2 linked regions of the Homo sapiens genome follow. The protein of the gene in region 1 purifies or fractionates together with the protein of each later gene. This does not show direct contact. Each region holds a gene or a part of one and is shown on either strand. Other genes may lie near its edges.

What was found. The genes of interacting proteins can lie anywhere in the genome.
Region 2: the proteins of MS4A7 (region 1) and CPNE7 purify together in Homo sapiens (affinity purification with mass spectrometry; 2 studies listed by BioGRID and IntAct, with this or other methods). This does not show direct contact.

Annotation. Positions count from the first base shown.
Region 1 is NC_000011.10:60,381,049-60,388,776, forward strand, and holds part of MS4A7 (membrane-spanning 4-domains subfamily A member 7), read left to right. Parts: intron 1-2,080; 5' UTR 2,081-2,093; coding exon 2,094-2,240; intron 2,241-4,039; coding exon 4,040-4,174; intron 4,175-5,668; coding exon 5,669-5,725; intron 5,726-7,728. UniProt on the Homo sapiens protein: May be involved in signal transduction as a component of a multimeric receptor complex.
Region 2 is NC_000016.10:89,578,477-89,586,204, forward strand, and holds part of CPNE7 (copine-7), read left to right. Parts: intron 1-380; coding exon of another isoform or gene 381-520; intron 521-4,967; coding exon of another isoform or gene 4,968-5,052; intron 5,053-5,220; coding exon 5,221-5,295; intron 5,296-5,551; coding exon 5,552-5,626; intron 5,627-6,297; coding exon 6,298-6,381; intron 6,382-6,987; coding exon 6,988-7,077; intron 7,078-7,210; coding exon 7,211-7,309; intron 7,310-7,728. UniProt on the Homo sapiens protein: Calcium-dependent phospholipid-binding protein that may play a role in calcium-mediated intracellular processes.

The DNA of each region.
Region 1 (7,728 bases):
TAAATGAGACTGTCACAAAGCTCTTAATAGAATGCCACATTCATAGTACGTGCCCAATCAATGTTAGCAATGATTATCATTTTATCATGAACTACTGTTTGATTCTGGAACCTAGAATTTCTCTAAGCCTGACACTTTTTCTCCTTCTCTGGCTTTAAAGATGTGCTGGAAGGCTCACCCTGACTCCACTGCAGGGATTCAGCTTCAACATTATTCCCCTCATAGGACATGTAACCTCACCCACACTTCTACCCAGATTTCAAAATTCCAAGAAATGAAAACTATCTCCTTAAACAAAGAGAACTTTAGGTTTAATAATTCTTCAGATAAAGTATCTCATGCCCGGAGAGCATGAGAAACTAGACTAAGGCACAGATCTAGGAGTAGAAATAAAATGGAGGTCCAAACATGGATCGACTATTATGGAACACCTGATAAAACTCAGAGAGTTACAACAAAAGACACTCACGTGTGTCATTCAAATCCTCACAAGAGTCCTTCAGGATAGTGTCATTATCCTTATTTTACAGATAAGGAAACTGGGGATGAATGAGGGAAAGTATCCTGCCTACGGCCAGCTCATCAATATCAGAACTGGGCTTCCAATGAATATTAGATAAAACTGATATGTTTTGGGAGTTTATCACATGCCTCCCCCTATGCTGAGTCCATTATATGTGTCATCTTATCCAACCTGTACCACAAACCTATGAAGTGGTGAAAATACCTTGCCCAGGGTGAGTTTAGCAGTAACTGGTGGATATGGGATCTGAACACACGACTGGACTCCAAGACATATGGTCAGATGTGCAACTAGATGCCTAGGCATTGGACTCCCATCCCAGTGCACTTTTCCATCTCCCTCACTAGGAAGAGATTCTAGGTGTCATTTCCAATTTTTACATGTTCTTCACTCCACCCAAGAGAGGCCAGAACCATTCCTAAAGCACCAACACATTGAGGCAAAATGTCAGGCAGCAGAGCTGTGGCACCTTTCAAGGATGACAAGCCTTTAACTAAACTCTGGCCTTCAGTAGGGAGAATGTTGAGCTGAAAACAAATCTGGGCAACATTTCAGGTGCTGAGCCTTGTTGCTGACACCACAGAGGCCCAGCAATGCTGCTGAGTTAGTGGTGGCAGACAACTTGCTCCTGGAATCTACAAGGGAACTGGAAATGTTAGGAAGGAAGAAAGGAAGGAAGAGGAAGAGGAGGAGAATTAACATGGCATAGAGAAAAAAATATCACAAGCGTCTGAGCCAGACAAGTCTCAATCCAGTCATGTAAACACAGGCTGTTAATATTTGCTACCATATATTGAACACATTCTAAGTGCCAGGCTAAGTACTTTATGTGACTATTTCATTCAATAAAAGTCACTTGAGCTTATTAGCCCCAGGTTTCTAATGTATAAAATTGATTTAATAACATGTAAGTTACAGGGTTGTTATAAGGATTAGAGCTGCAATGGTCTAATGCTTGGAATTCAGCAGGAGTTAAGTAAATGTTTACATTACTAATTACGAAGCCAATATAAGCAAGGAGGAAGATTCCGGATGGGACAGGCCATCTCGCTATAGGAAAGGAAAGTGGAACAGCATTCATCCTCAACATTTTTACGAAGACAAAATGAAGACTGGAGTAGAAGACTGATCAGTGCAGGTGTAGCATAAAAGTGTAATCCTGGAAGATGTGGTGTGAGAAGGTAGCACAAGTGAAGCAGAGATACAGGAGATAGGGAAGGGAAGCTGGAAGCAGAGGTCACTGGAGGGAGAGGGAGATGGACACATTCAGGGCTACAAAGCAAGTTCTATGTGATTTGCTCACCTCTCAATTGTGGGACCCCTCAAAATGTGTACAGTACTCTCCCAGTGACATGCTTCTTGACCACAATGGATGAACTGTGCCCAGCATGCCCACTTTCCAATGCTCCACTGATCCCCATGTTTTGTTTCTGAAGGACAACCAGCCTTGGAATAATGGCAAATACCTTCTTAAGTTCCTACAAAGTATGGTCCCTGGGAAGTTTATGTCTGTAAGTCAAACCTTGGGAAGTAACTGAGTTTTGATGCCTCTTCCAGCATCATCAGCATCATGCTATTACAATCCCAAACCATGGGGGTTTCTCACAGCTTTACACCAAAGGGCATCACTATCCCTCAAAGAGAGAAACCTGGACACATGTACCAAAACGAAGATTACCTGCAGAACGGGCTGCCAACAGAAACCACCGTTCTTGGGGTAAGTCCACCTCATTATAAGGGGAATACTGAGAAAATACTTTGTAAATGTATCTAGACTACAGATCTACAGTGGGTCTGGGAAACTCTTTCACTCTTTTCTGGCTGACTCCAGGCTAATGAGGACATGAAATGGAGCTTTAAGGGAAGACTCTTAAAGCTCTGCAGCAGTTTCTAGAAACTAAAACCACTAGATCTTTTTCACTAGCATGCTTCACAATTAACAGGTTAGTCTTTCTTATTTTATTTATTTATATATTTATTTATTTTGAGACAGAATCTCCCTCTGTCACCCAGCATGGAGTGCAGTGGCACGATCTCAGCTCACTGCAACCTCCGCCTCCTGGGTTCAAGTGATTCTTCTGCCTCAGCCTCCCGAGTAGCTGGGACTATGGGTGCACGCCACCACGCCCGGCTAATTTTTGTATTCTTAGTAGAGATGGGGTTTCACCATACTGGCCAGGCTGGTCTTGAACTCCTGACCTTGTGATCTGCCCGCCTTGGCCTCCCAAAGTGCTGGGATTACAGGCATGAGCCACTGTGCCCAGCCACAAATTAGTCTTTCTTATTTTGTCATTAGTACAGTAAAAATTTTCTATTTAACCATATGGATTTTACTCAATATGATTAAATTAACTTTGAGCTTATTTTTCAAATATTTTGAGATGAGACGATCAAGACTAATCTCATGACCCATTTTTCCCCGTTCATATGAGTAACTATAAGACATCCAAGTGTCCCAGATCATCATCCCTCATATCCAGAACTTTAATCTCCATGTGGTTTTGAATACCCTCTTATAATACCCAGGTCCTATTCACTGCCTATTTAGATGGATCTCCCTGCCCTGTTTCTTTACAATCTATTCTTAGTACAGCAGGTAGGGTACTCTTTTAAAAATGAAAGTTAGATCATGTATTCTCCTGGCTCAAAATTATCCAGTGGGATTCCTTTTTTGCTCAAAATGAAAAGCAAAGTTGGTAAAACATAGCCTAAAAATCCCTACATAGTTTGTACCATGCCTCCAGTACTTCACAAGCCTCATGTCCTACTACTTTGCTCTTAACTCTATTCTGCCTTGCATGGAACTTGTCTGTACCTTTACAGACAAGACATAGTACACATATAAGCTCTCCAATGGTAGTGATTTTCATTTGCTTCATTCCCTCGTGCCTGGCACACAACATACCTGTTGTGGTATTCAATAACTGTTGATGATGTGAATGGTTGACTTCTTTTTTTATTTCTCCTATGTTTGCATCATCTTTCAATTGCACATGCATTAAACTATGAGCAAAAGCATGGGCTTTAGAGCAAGCTAACAGCTAAACTTCAGTTCTTCCACTTGCGAAATAATTATTATTAAAATCCAATGATGAACAAAATAAGATGAATTACAGCAGAAGAGATGACCTGCTCTATCTAATTTCAACTGAAAAATCTCTTCATTAACACTCCTGTGAAAAGTTTGCTCTCTATTTCCACCTCACTGGACAACTTTTTTATCTACTTTTCAAGAAAATAAATTTAAAAACTGTCAAGTATCTTTTTCAAAAAAAGTTAAAATGTGTGTATGATCACTTTCCGATTTGCTGGTTTAATAATCCTATCAGAAAAGAAGAGGTTAGCTATACATGACTTTCTCTAGAAGCATATCGATTGGCTCCTTGTAACATTTTTCCTCTTTAATATAACAAATTATAATGTATTTTATACTCTTTATACTTTACCGTGTGCATTCAAATAATCACTTTTATCTGTTTGAAGTGCAGTCTAGATTTCCTGTCTTCTCTCTTGTAGACTGTCCAGATCCTGTGTTGCCTGTTGATTTCAAGTCTGGGGGCCATCTTGGTTTTTGCTCCCTACCCCTCCCACTTCAATCCAGCAATTTCCACCACTTTGATGTCTGGGTACCCATTTTTAGGAGCTCTGTGTGTGAGTAGAATGGGGACTCTAAGAGGGGACATGCTTTATAAATGCTAACCAGGTGCATAGTCGTGGAGTGACTCAGACTCCAAGAGGCCAGGAGGCAAAAGGCGGCAAGGCCTCGACTTTCCTTCTATCATTGCCCCACGTCACATTTCCCCTATTCAAGAAGAGCAGCAGAGAGACTTAATCTGTCTTCCTGCAGAGCAGGGGGCAAGAGGGAATGGTAATACAATGGGTATACCAGCACAGAATTTCTTACCTGGCATTACAGCATACCTCTAGAAAAGTGGATGATTTTCCATATCCCTCTTTGAGGCTTTGATGAGGCCATTGGATTCCCTCCATTGTAAGAATAATCAACTTTTCAGGTAGAGAGTGAGAAGGCCATTTTTAAACAATAAAACGAGCACCACTGGTTGATGCCACAGGTTTGCAGAGATTTGGATTAACAAGGGTAAGATTCATGGGAGGCAGGGACATGCTTGCTGTGTGTCCAGAGGTAACCCTGAGCACTAGAGAAACTCTCTTTGCTGCCTTCCACCTAATGGCTCATGAAAAAGGGCCCAGTAGATCCATTTTTCAGAGAGTGGCCAGGGCAGACTCACACTTCCCACAAAGGGTTATTTCTTCTCCACGTAGTATTTGGTACAAAGGATAAAAATCAAATATTCTGGGCAAATGAACTATACTAAGGTACCACTTCTGTGTGGATACAGTCCCTGTGTGAACACAAACTGTGCAGTCACATAAGGAGGCCCTGGTCCTGCCCCAGAGCACAATTTGTCCTTGACTTCTCCTGTAACCAGTGGTTGTGGGCCCCACATCTCCTTAGAGAAGCTAGCGTTAGCTCATACTGGACCCTCTTTGCCTGTGATTATTCAATATCCAAGCCACACACTTAAGCAACTTTTCAGCTTCTCAGAATACCCTTCCTCTGCCAGCTGGATCTTTAATACCACTGAGATTAAATACTGATTTCTGGGGCTTTATGATAAAGACTTCACGTCTGAGCCTGCTCTTCCCACTTTCCTCGACTCCCATTCTGACTCAAGCAACATACACCAATAACTTCCAGTCCATGTGTTTCTGCACCTTGTCCCATCAGAGCCTCTTTCCTGAGTGCTTCTGTTGGCTGTTCCAATCTCTCTGTCCATTCAAGTCATTGGTCCATCTCAACCTCCTCTCTTTCAACCCTGTAATTTAGTAACACTCTTCTCCTTCCCAGGTACACCTTTTCTCCAGGCCTCCTCAGTTCCTAGTGATTTCCACTAAAACAAATCCAACCCCTCTGTGCATCTGCATGTCATTCAAAGTCAATATAGACATTCTTATATCAGGTGGGAATTAGGCCTATCTAGCAATATAGATCCACAAGATTTCTGCAGTGTTCTCTCCCTAAAAGTTTTCCAACATCACTTTTTGATTGAGTGATTGACAGTGACATGGTGGGCACATTTCCACAAGACAACTGAACTGATCATTTCTCTCTCTTCTGGGCAGTTTGGCATTACTGGATCCCTCTCAATTATCTCTGGAAAACAATCAACTAAGCCCTTTGTAAGTATAAGGACCATCAAATCTCAGCTGGTTGGAATTGAAGGAACGTCAGAGTTAATTCTTCTAGTTTAAAAATCCCTATTTTACAATTTAGAGAGAAAAAGCTTAGAACAGGCTAGGAAGCCCAGGTTTTCCTGGCTGTCCCATTGGTAGAACCAAGAGTAGAGCCCAAATTTCTTGCCTTCTAGACCAGTGCTCTTTCGTCTACACAATGTTGCTCCTGGATTATATTCCAAGCTTGGAGGAGGTTTACCTCAGTTATTTAAAAAGTGTACATTTTTAAATGTACCATGGACTCTTTATAGCTTGTAACCTTGACCTTGAATAAGGTAGCCACCCATCCCAGAGAGAGCCTACAGATCCTTTTTTCTATAAAACCTGCCTCTTGGGGTTCTTTTTGATGCCAAATGTCCCCATTCATAGAGTTGGGACTTCACACAAATTCTAGCCCTTCAGCGTCAGGGTGACCAATTGTTTGGTTTTCCCAGGACTGTCTCAGTTTTAGCCCAGAAAGCCTATATCCTGGGAAACCCCTTACTCCCCAGGCAAAGCAGAATAACTGGTTTACCCTACTCTGTGACCGTGGTAACAAGTTGAAAGAAGTCCATGATATATTTTCAAAGTTCTACTATTTAAGCAACTGAAATAAACTTCTTTCAGTCAAATATCAGGTGGGGAGGCATTCATTCCCCTGTCAGAAGAGGGTGTTGCCGTCTTCATCCAGGCTGGAGGAGACTATTTCCATCCAAAGACTCATGCTTGATAATTGGATGTTTGAGAAAAAAAATCAGTTTAAAGTAAGGTGGGAGAAAATGAGGGTGATGGAGTAGGGGTGAGGGGGATGTCTGCAATGTCAGCACTGATTGCAGCACCAAACTCAAAGACAATACCACTCATGCCACTGCCAACATACCCCTGGCTTCCTCAACAACTTTAGAATTATTATATTGCCCTAAGTGCATCTAGAATATGACCTTTGGTCCCTCCCTAGAAACCCAATGTATGTCTTCTTACTTAAAAGAGCGGCTTCAGAGAAAAGACAAAAGCAAACTGAAGAAGTTGGAATACCTACCTACAGGTGGATCAGGCCTATGAGAACCACATTCACCACACCATTTCCCAACTCCTCTTCTACATTTTAGGAGACAGGATTCTCCCATAGCATGACGATTCACTAGCAAAGACACTGATGTGCCAGGCTCTGTGCGAGGTTTCCAGCACATGCTCCTCTCTGTTTAAGCATCACTGGAAGACAATGTATGTTGGGAAGGATGGTTGTCCTGCCCTTTTCTACTCCAGCTCTGTAGCTATATGGATTCATGTGCTGAGTCTTTGAAGGAAAAGTAGTCCCAGTGGGCAGTATCTTTGCCCAAAGCTACCATATGAGCAATGGAGCCCACATGTTGTTCTTTGTCCCACTTGTGGAGCCCACATTGTTGTCAAGTCCAAGCATAGATTTCCCTTTCTGTGTATTCAGTGCATTTGGGAAGCCACTTCTGAGATCAGAAGATTCATCTTCCACATTTTATAAAAGAGATAACTGAAGCCCAGAGTAAGAAGGACTTGCTCAAGCACACAGATGGATCAGTGACAGATGGGTCAGTGACAGAGCTGGGATAGGAGGAGAGGATTTCAGTTTCTAAGTCCAGAACTATGACTCCAACCAATGAATGCTGTGAACTCTTCAAAACCCTCTTCCATAATCCTGGGTTCTAGACTGCAGCTTCAATCATCAGGAGCATATACCAGCCTCATGCACCATCCATGTGTCCTCATCTGTGCCTAGCCAGGCCCTGTATCTTCTTGAGTCAGGATGTGGCTTTTCCCTAAATCACCTCTATGGGTGTGTGGCAGGGAAGAGAGAAAGGCTGCTACGGAGAGAAGCAAAGGCTTTATAGCTGCTTCCTCCCTTTCTCCCTCCAAGGTTTGTGGGAAAAGTGGCTACAGTCTGATAATATTTCTGTTTGTGAATGGGTGGAGAGAGAAGCACAGGGTCTAAGCCC
Region 2 (7,728 bases), on another chromosome or scaffold:
TGGCCGGCCGTGGTGGCTCACACCTGTGATCCCAGCACTGTGGGAGGCCGAGGCGGGCAGATCACTTGAGGTCAGGAGTTCGAGACCAGCCTGGCCAACATGCTGAAACCTCATCTCTACAAAAAGTACAATAATTAGCCGGGCATGGTGGCATGTGCCTGTAATCCCAGCTACTCTGGAGGCTGAGGCAGGAGAATCGGTTGAACCCGGGAGGCAGAGGTTGCAGTGAGTGGAGATCTCACCACTGCACTCCAGCCTGAGTGACAGATTGAGACTCTGTCTCAAAAAAAAAAAAAAAAAAAGAAGCCTCCTTGTGAGCAGCAGGTCCTACGGTGGCCACTGCTTCCTTGGTGATGCTCTCTGGGTTACGGCCTCCACAGCCAGCCCAAAAGTGGCTTCTGCAAGTCGTGATGAGAGTGTCTGTTGATGTGCTGGGCCCTGCTGGACACTGCGCTAAGCACTTCCTGTGCTGCACGGAATCCTCACACCTTGCCAGGACGGGTCCTTCTTTTTTATTGAGGTAAAATTTACAGGCCGGGCACGGTGGCTCACGCCTGTAATCGCAGCACTTTGGAAGTCCGAGGTGGGGGGATCACGAGGTCAGGAGTTCGAGACCAGCCTGGCCAACATGATGAAACCCCATCTCTACTAAAAATAGAAAAGAAATTAGCCAGGCGTGGTGGTGCGTGCCTGTAGTCCCAGCTACTGGGGAGGCTGAGGCAGGAGAATCACTTGAACCTGGGAGGCAGAGGTTTCAGCGAGCCGAGATCGCGCCACTGCACACCAGCCCAGGTGACAGTGAGTCTTTGTCTCAAAAAAAAAAAAAAATTTTACGATAAAATGCATCAATCTTAAGGGTTGAGAATGACAAGTTTAGGTGACTGTACACAGCTGACCATCACCCGTCACACAGAACATCCCGTCACACGGAACATCTCACCTGTCACACAGAACATCCCTTCACCCCTCACACGGAACATCCTGTCACCTGCTGACACGGAACATCCGATCACCCGTCACACGGAACATCCCATCACACAGAACATCCCATCACTTGTCACATCTCACCCATGACACGGAACATCCCGTCAGCCATCACATCTCACCCGTCACACAGAACATCCCTTCACCCATCACACGGAACATCCCATCACCCATCACATCTCACCCGTCACATGGAACATCCCTTCACCCATCACATGGAACATCCCGTCATCTGCTCACATGGAACATCCCATCACCCATCACACGGAACATCCCATCACCCATCACACAGAACATCTCACCCATCACACGGAACATCCCGTCACCCGCTGACACGGAACATCTCACCCGTCACACGGAACATCCCACACCCATCACACGGAACATCTCACCCATCACACGGAACATCCCGTCACCTGCTGACACGGAACATCTCACCCATCACACGGAACATCCCGTCACCCGCTGACACAGAACATCTCACCCGTCACATGGAACATCCCGTCACCCGTCACACGGAACATCCCATCACACGGAACATCTCACCCATCACACGGAACATCCTGTCACCCGCTGACACGGAACATCTCACCCGTCACACGGAACATCCCATCACCTGCAGACACGGAACATCTCACCCATCACACAGAACATCCCGTCACCCGCTGACACAGAACATCTCACCCGTCACACGGAACATCCCGTCACCCGCTGACACAGAACATCTCACCCGTCACACGGAACATCCCGTCACCCGCTGACACGGAACATCTCCCCCATCACACGGAACATCCCATCACCTGCAGACACAGAACATCTCACCCATCACACGGAACATCCCGTCACCCGCTGACACAGAACATCTCACCCGTCACACGGAACATCCCATCACCCGTCACACGGAACATCCCATCACCCGTCACATGGAACATCCCATCACCCGTCACACGGAACATCCCATCACCCATCACACAGAACATCTCACCCATCACACGGAACATCTCACCCATCACACGGAACATCCCGTCACCCGCTGACACAGAACATCTCACCCGTCACACGGAACATCCCATCACCCGTCACATGGAACATCCCATCACCCATCACACGGAACATCTCACCCATCACACGGAACATCCCGTCACCCGCTGACACGGAACATCTCACCTGTCACACGGAACATCCCATCACCCGTCACATGGAACATCCCATCACCCATCACACGGAACATCTCACCTGTCACACGGAACATCCCGTCACCCGCTGACACAGAACATCTCACCCATCACACGGAACATCCCATCACCCGCTGACACAGAACATCTCACCCGTCACACGGAACATCCCGTCACCTGTAACACGGAACATCCCGTCACCCATCACACGGAACATCCCATCACCCGTCACACGGAACATGCCATCACCCGTCACACGGAACATCCCATCACCCGTCACATGGAACATCTCACCCATCACACGGAACATCCCGTCACCCGCTGACATGGAACATCTCACCCATCACACGGAACATCCCATCACCTGTCACACGGAACATCCCGTCACCCGTCACACGGAACATCCCGTAACCCATCACATGGAACATCCCGTCACCTGTCACACGGAACATCCCATCACCCGTCACATGGAACATCTCACCAATCACACAGAACATCTCACCCATCACATGGAACATCCCGTCACCCGTCACACGGAACATTCCGTCTCCCGCTGACACGGAATATCTGATCACCCATCACATGGAACATCCCATCACCCACTCACACGGAACATCCGATCACCCGTCACACGGAACATCCTGTCACCAGTCACACAGAACATCCCGTCACCCATCACACGGAACATCCCATCACCCGTCACACGGAACATCCCGTCACCCATCACACGGAACATCCCGTCACCCGCAGCTGCCCCTGCCCCTTTGTGGCCAGCTCCCCGCCTGGTTCGTCTCTTCTGGAATTCCACGTCCATGAATCACAGCGCGTGTTCTCCCTGCTGTGGAATTCTTTTACCCAACATAATGTCTGCGTGACTCATCCCCCTGCAGCCTCGGTCGGAGCTGGCGTGCCATCGATCCTGTTGTCCTCCCCATTTTTTAGATAAGGAAACTGAGAGTTAGGGAGGGCACAGATGGAAGAGGATGGCACGGACACAGAAATATGGACATGCTTTTTTTGTTTTTTTGAGTTGGGTTCTCACTCTGCCGCCCAGGCTGGAGTGCAGTGGGACAGTCACAGCTCACTGCAGCCTCAACGGCCTGTGCTCAAGCAATCCTCTCACCTCAGCCTCCTGAGTAGCTGGGACTACAGGTGTACGCCACCAGACCTGGCTACGTTTTGCATTTTTTGAAGAGACAGGGGTCTCACCATGTTGCCCCAACTGGTCTTGAACTCCCGGGCTCACCGATCCACCCACCCTGGGCTCCCAAAATGTTGGGATTATAGGCATGAGCCACTGTGTCTGGCCTGGACACCTTTCTATGTACACACAGGTGCACATGTATGTCATAATCCGTGCAGGACATCCTATGCCTGTTCACATAAGCACACACACAGGGTCCGTGTGGACACCTGCGTGCAGATATGAATGTGTGTGTGAGCACGTGTGCTGTGGATATGTGCAAACTTCCAGCAATGAGGAGGCCCCTCGTGGGTTCCTGCTCTGTGGCCACCCAGCTGACCTGCAGGGCACCACGGTCAAGGGAGAAGCTACTGGCATCCAGTCCCTGTGCTGTGGCTTTGAGCCTGACCTGACCTCTGACCCCTGACTTCTGCCTCAACTGTTTCCTCATGTGATTCAAGTAAACAGTAACTCAGCCCAGAGCCAGGGATCCAGGAAGTGCTTATTAAACGCTGTTGGCACAAATCAGCGATCTCGTATTTCCTGGTAGGGGAATCTGTTGTGTTAGCCTGAGCCCGTTTCTCTCCTAAGGACCTGCTCTCCTGCCAGAAAGGGGAGGCCACTCCTTTCCTGCGCCCTCCCTGGAAGCAAACCAGGCCGGCAGGCGAGTCCCAGGTGTGAGGCAGAGGCCCTGGCTCAGGAGCCCCAGAAGGAAACCTTTGAATCAGGGAATCTTGGGGGGCCTGGCCCGAGGCTCCCCCTCCCAGCACCCAGGACCCCTTTGCACCCCTAAGAGAGCCTTCCCACCCCTTAACCTGACTTGACTTCCCCAGCCCTGACCTGGGATCTGCTTTCTCTTCTGTGTGGAAAGTGCCGCATGCTCAGAAGCTGCTGGCCAGGCCGGCCCTGGTTGGGGGTGGAGGGACTGCCCCTCTCTGCTTTGTATTCAACCTACCTCATTGTGACCTCCCAGCATCCGCCAGGCAGTAGCAGGTGTGAGGGCAGGTGGGAAGCACACACCTGCTACCTGGTGGGCCATTCGATGGTTGCTGAGATCACTTACGTGTGAGGAGATGACGGCCACCCCGCTTGGCCGGGGTCATCACCATCTCCTTTCGGACACGGAGCCTGGGAGGGCCGTGTGCCCCCGTCCTGCTCCTCACTGAGGAGATGACCTGGCTGCAGGGGCCTGGGCCTGTCATCCGCCACCCACCCCAGGTGGGCTCATAGCCGATGGGGCGGAAGTCCAGCAGGGCCTGGTGAGGAGGAGGAGGCCCCGGCTGCATGAGGAGGTCCCCAGGGTCTAAGCCCCAGTCCACTTCGAACAATCAACTCTGCTCCTTGGCACCTTCGAAGAGGAGTGGGCGGTGGGGTCCTGGGCCGGCACCTCGCTCACACCCTTTCTGCCGCCCGTGGCTACGTGGACATGCTGGGCGTGAGGGTCCGGGGCCGTTTGAGCTGCCTCGCCTCTGCTTCTGCGGGTTCTCACCTGGGCCTGGAGAGGGTCAGGGCAGCCCTGCTTACCTGTGGAGGGGCGTCCGCCACACCTGTGCAGGTGCAGGCCAGCTGGGCTGTGAGCTGCTTCCTGGCTTCCACCTGAGCCTGTTTCCTCACCTGGTAAATAGGTATGATGACCTCTGCCTCCCCTGGGCGACTGCTGGCGCCGTGAGGTGGTGGACGTGCAGGGGTGGCCACACGCAGGGATGGCAGGTGCTTGAGAGCAGCCACAAAGGGGGCGCGGGCCCTGGGCAGTGAAGCTCATGGTGGGGGATGGGGAGACAGGACAGGCCTGAGAGTCCGGGTGAGGGCGCGGTGGGGTCTCCAGGGTCAGGAGCCGTCCCCGCCTGCCCCTCCCTGCCTGACGCCTCTGACTTACAGATTGTGGCCCAGAAGAAGGTGACCCGCCCGCTGCTGCTCAAGTTTGGCAGGAACGCTGGCAAGTCCACCATCACGGTGAGACCCGGGCGCACCCCTGCAGCCTGCAGGCCCTGCTGCTGTGGCTCCGAGGGGTGTTGTGGGCGGAAGATGGGCAGCAGCGTGCCGTCCAGGGAGGGTCTGCAGGAGCCGGCAGCTACACAGCCCCGGGGGTACACAGACACCTCCTCTCAGGCCCCGCTGGGTGGGGTCAGCCAGCCTGGGGCCTCTGGTCCCCCACGGTGGGGTCAGGCCCCACCTGGCCAAGCCTGGAGCCCGGGCGTCCCCCTGCCAGGTGATCGCCGAGGACATCTCGGGGAACAACGGCTACGTGGAGCTCTCCTTCCGGGCCAGGAAGCTGGACGACAAGGTGAGTGCAGGTGCCGGGCACGCCTGGCTCAGGCTGAGGTCCGGGAACCGGTTCGAAAACCCGGTCCCTGCCCAGCGCTGACCTCGCGTGGCTATGTCCCGTGTGAGACGTGTGCGGAGTGTGCCTGGGGCTGGGCGTGCTGCCGTCACGGTCGCCATCATCACTGTCACCGCCATTAGCTCTCCCGCCCCTCCTGGCAGCTGGGCTGGGGCTGGGGCAGCTCCCTCCTGTGGGGACCACTCATGACCCTGCTCAGGGATGGGGAAATAGGCCCAGCACCCCCGAGGCCACTGTCGTGACAGGAGGAACTGGAACAGCGCGCGGTTCTGCGGGCTCGTCACGTGGGTGGGCAGAACAGGGTCCAACCCCGCCATGTAGGGCGTCTCCCTGGAGGGGCTGAGTCGCAGGGTGTGTAGGGCAAGTCCGTGGAGGGCTGAGTCGCAGGGTGTGCAGGGTGACTCCATGGAGGGCTGAGTTGCCCGCCGTGGTCAGATCCCTGGGGGCGGGAGGGAGGGACGAGATGCTGTCGGCGGGGACTGGCTGCCTCGTTTTGTGCCTGAGGAATTAGCGGCTGGTGGCATGAAGTGAGCCCTGGGAAACGACAAAGCCAGCTCCCATCCAAAGCCCGATCTCACAGTGCCTGGCCCAGCAGCCCTTGTGCCTCTCCCCAGGACCTCTTCAGCAAGTCCGACCCCTTCCTGGAGCTCTACAGGGTCAACGACGACCAGGGCTTGCAGCTGGTGTACAGGACGGAGGTGAGCGGCCGGGGATGGGAACACAGGGAGGGGAAGGGGCTGTCCCCAGCCCTCACGCATCTCTGGCCACATGGGAGGAGCTCCCAGCCTCCAACAGGGAGCTGTGGGCGCAGGGCTTTGGTGGCTGTGGCTATGGCCAGAATCCAACAGGGAGCCGCAGGCGCAGGGCCCTGGGGGCCGTGGCTGTGGCCAGAATCCAGCAGGCTTGTGTAGTCGTGGCTGTGATTATTTTTAGACCTACCTTCCACTTCCTGCAGGTGAAATGGGATTTCAGCGACGGCAGGGAGAGAGTGCTTTCTTTTGAGAGAAATTAACTTGAGTGAAAATGAATCTATTTAAGGAAGAGAGCAGCGCAGGTGGCTCAGAGGTGGCAGAAGTTACGAAGGTGGAGGCACAGGGCTCGGAAATGTGTCTCCCGGGTCCTCACATGGCTTCGTGCAGGGAGTGGGTGCCAGCCCCAGCTCAGGGCCCCGGCGCTGTCTGGGGTGATGCAGGGGCAGGGCCAGCTGTGCCCGCCTCACAGCTGCTCTTCCACCCAGGTCTCTATCCCCCCCAAGGATCCCAGGGCCCTGGGCCTCCCCTGAGCCAGCCCCTCCCGGCCCACAGGTGGTGAAGAACAACCTGAACCCGGTGTGGGAGGCCTTCAAAGTCTCTCTGAGTTCCCTCTGCAGCTGCGAGGAGACAAGGCCTCTAAAGGTGGGGGACGGGATGGACCAAGGGGGCAGTGAGGGGGTGGCCTGGATGTGGGCTGCGATGGAGACACCTGGGCTCGGGTGGGAGGGTCCTGGGGCCCCCAGACAGCAGTGCTGAGGAGGACTGGGCTCCCCAGTGCCTGGTCTGGGATTACGACTCTCGAGGAAAGCACGACTTCATCGGAGAATTCTCTACCACCTTCGAGGAGATGCAGAAGGCCTTTGAGGAGGGGCAGGTGAGCAGGACGGGGTAGGGGGTCCTCCAGGGAGGGTCAGGTGGGGGTGGAGGGGGGCCTTCGGGGAGGGGTAGGTGAGCAGGACTGGGGGGGTACCTCCAGGAAGTGTCAGGTGAGGAGGTGGGGGGTGGGGTAGGGGCCTCCGTGGAGGGGCATGTGGGTGGGCACCTCTGGGGAGGAGCAGGTTGGGGGGGCCTTTGGGGAGGTTCAGGTGAGGGGGGCCTCCAGGGAGGGGCAGTTAGCAGGGGGAGGGGGCATTCAGGGAGGGGCAGGTGAGGGGGGCCTCTGGGGAGGGGCAGGTGAGTCGGGGGCACACCTGGGCTACGCCTGTGTTGGCCCTGCCACAGAGGCTGTGAAACCCTGTCCCACTGTCCTGATGGGGTTGTGGGGAGTGGTGACAATGACTTGTTATAACCAGA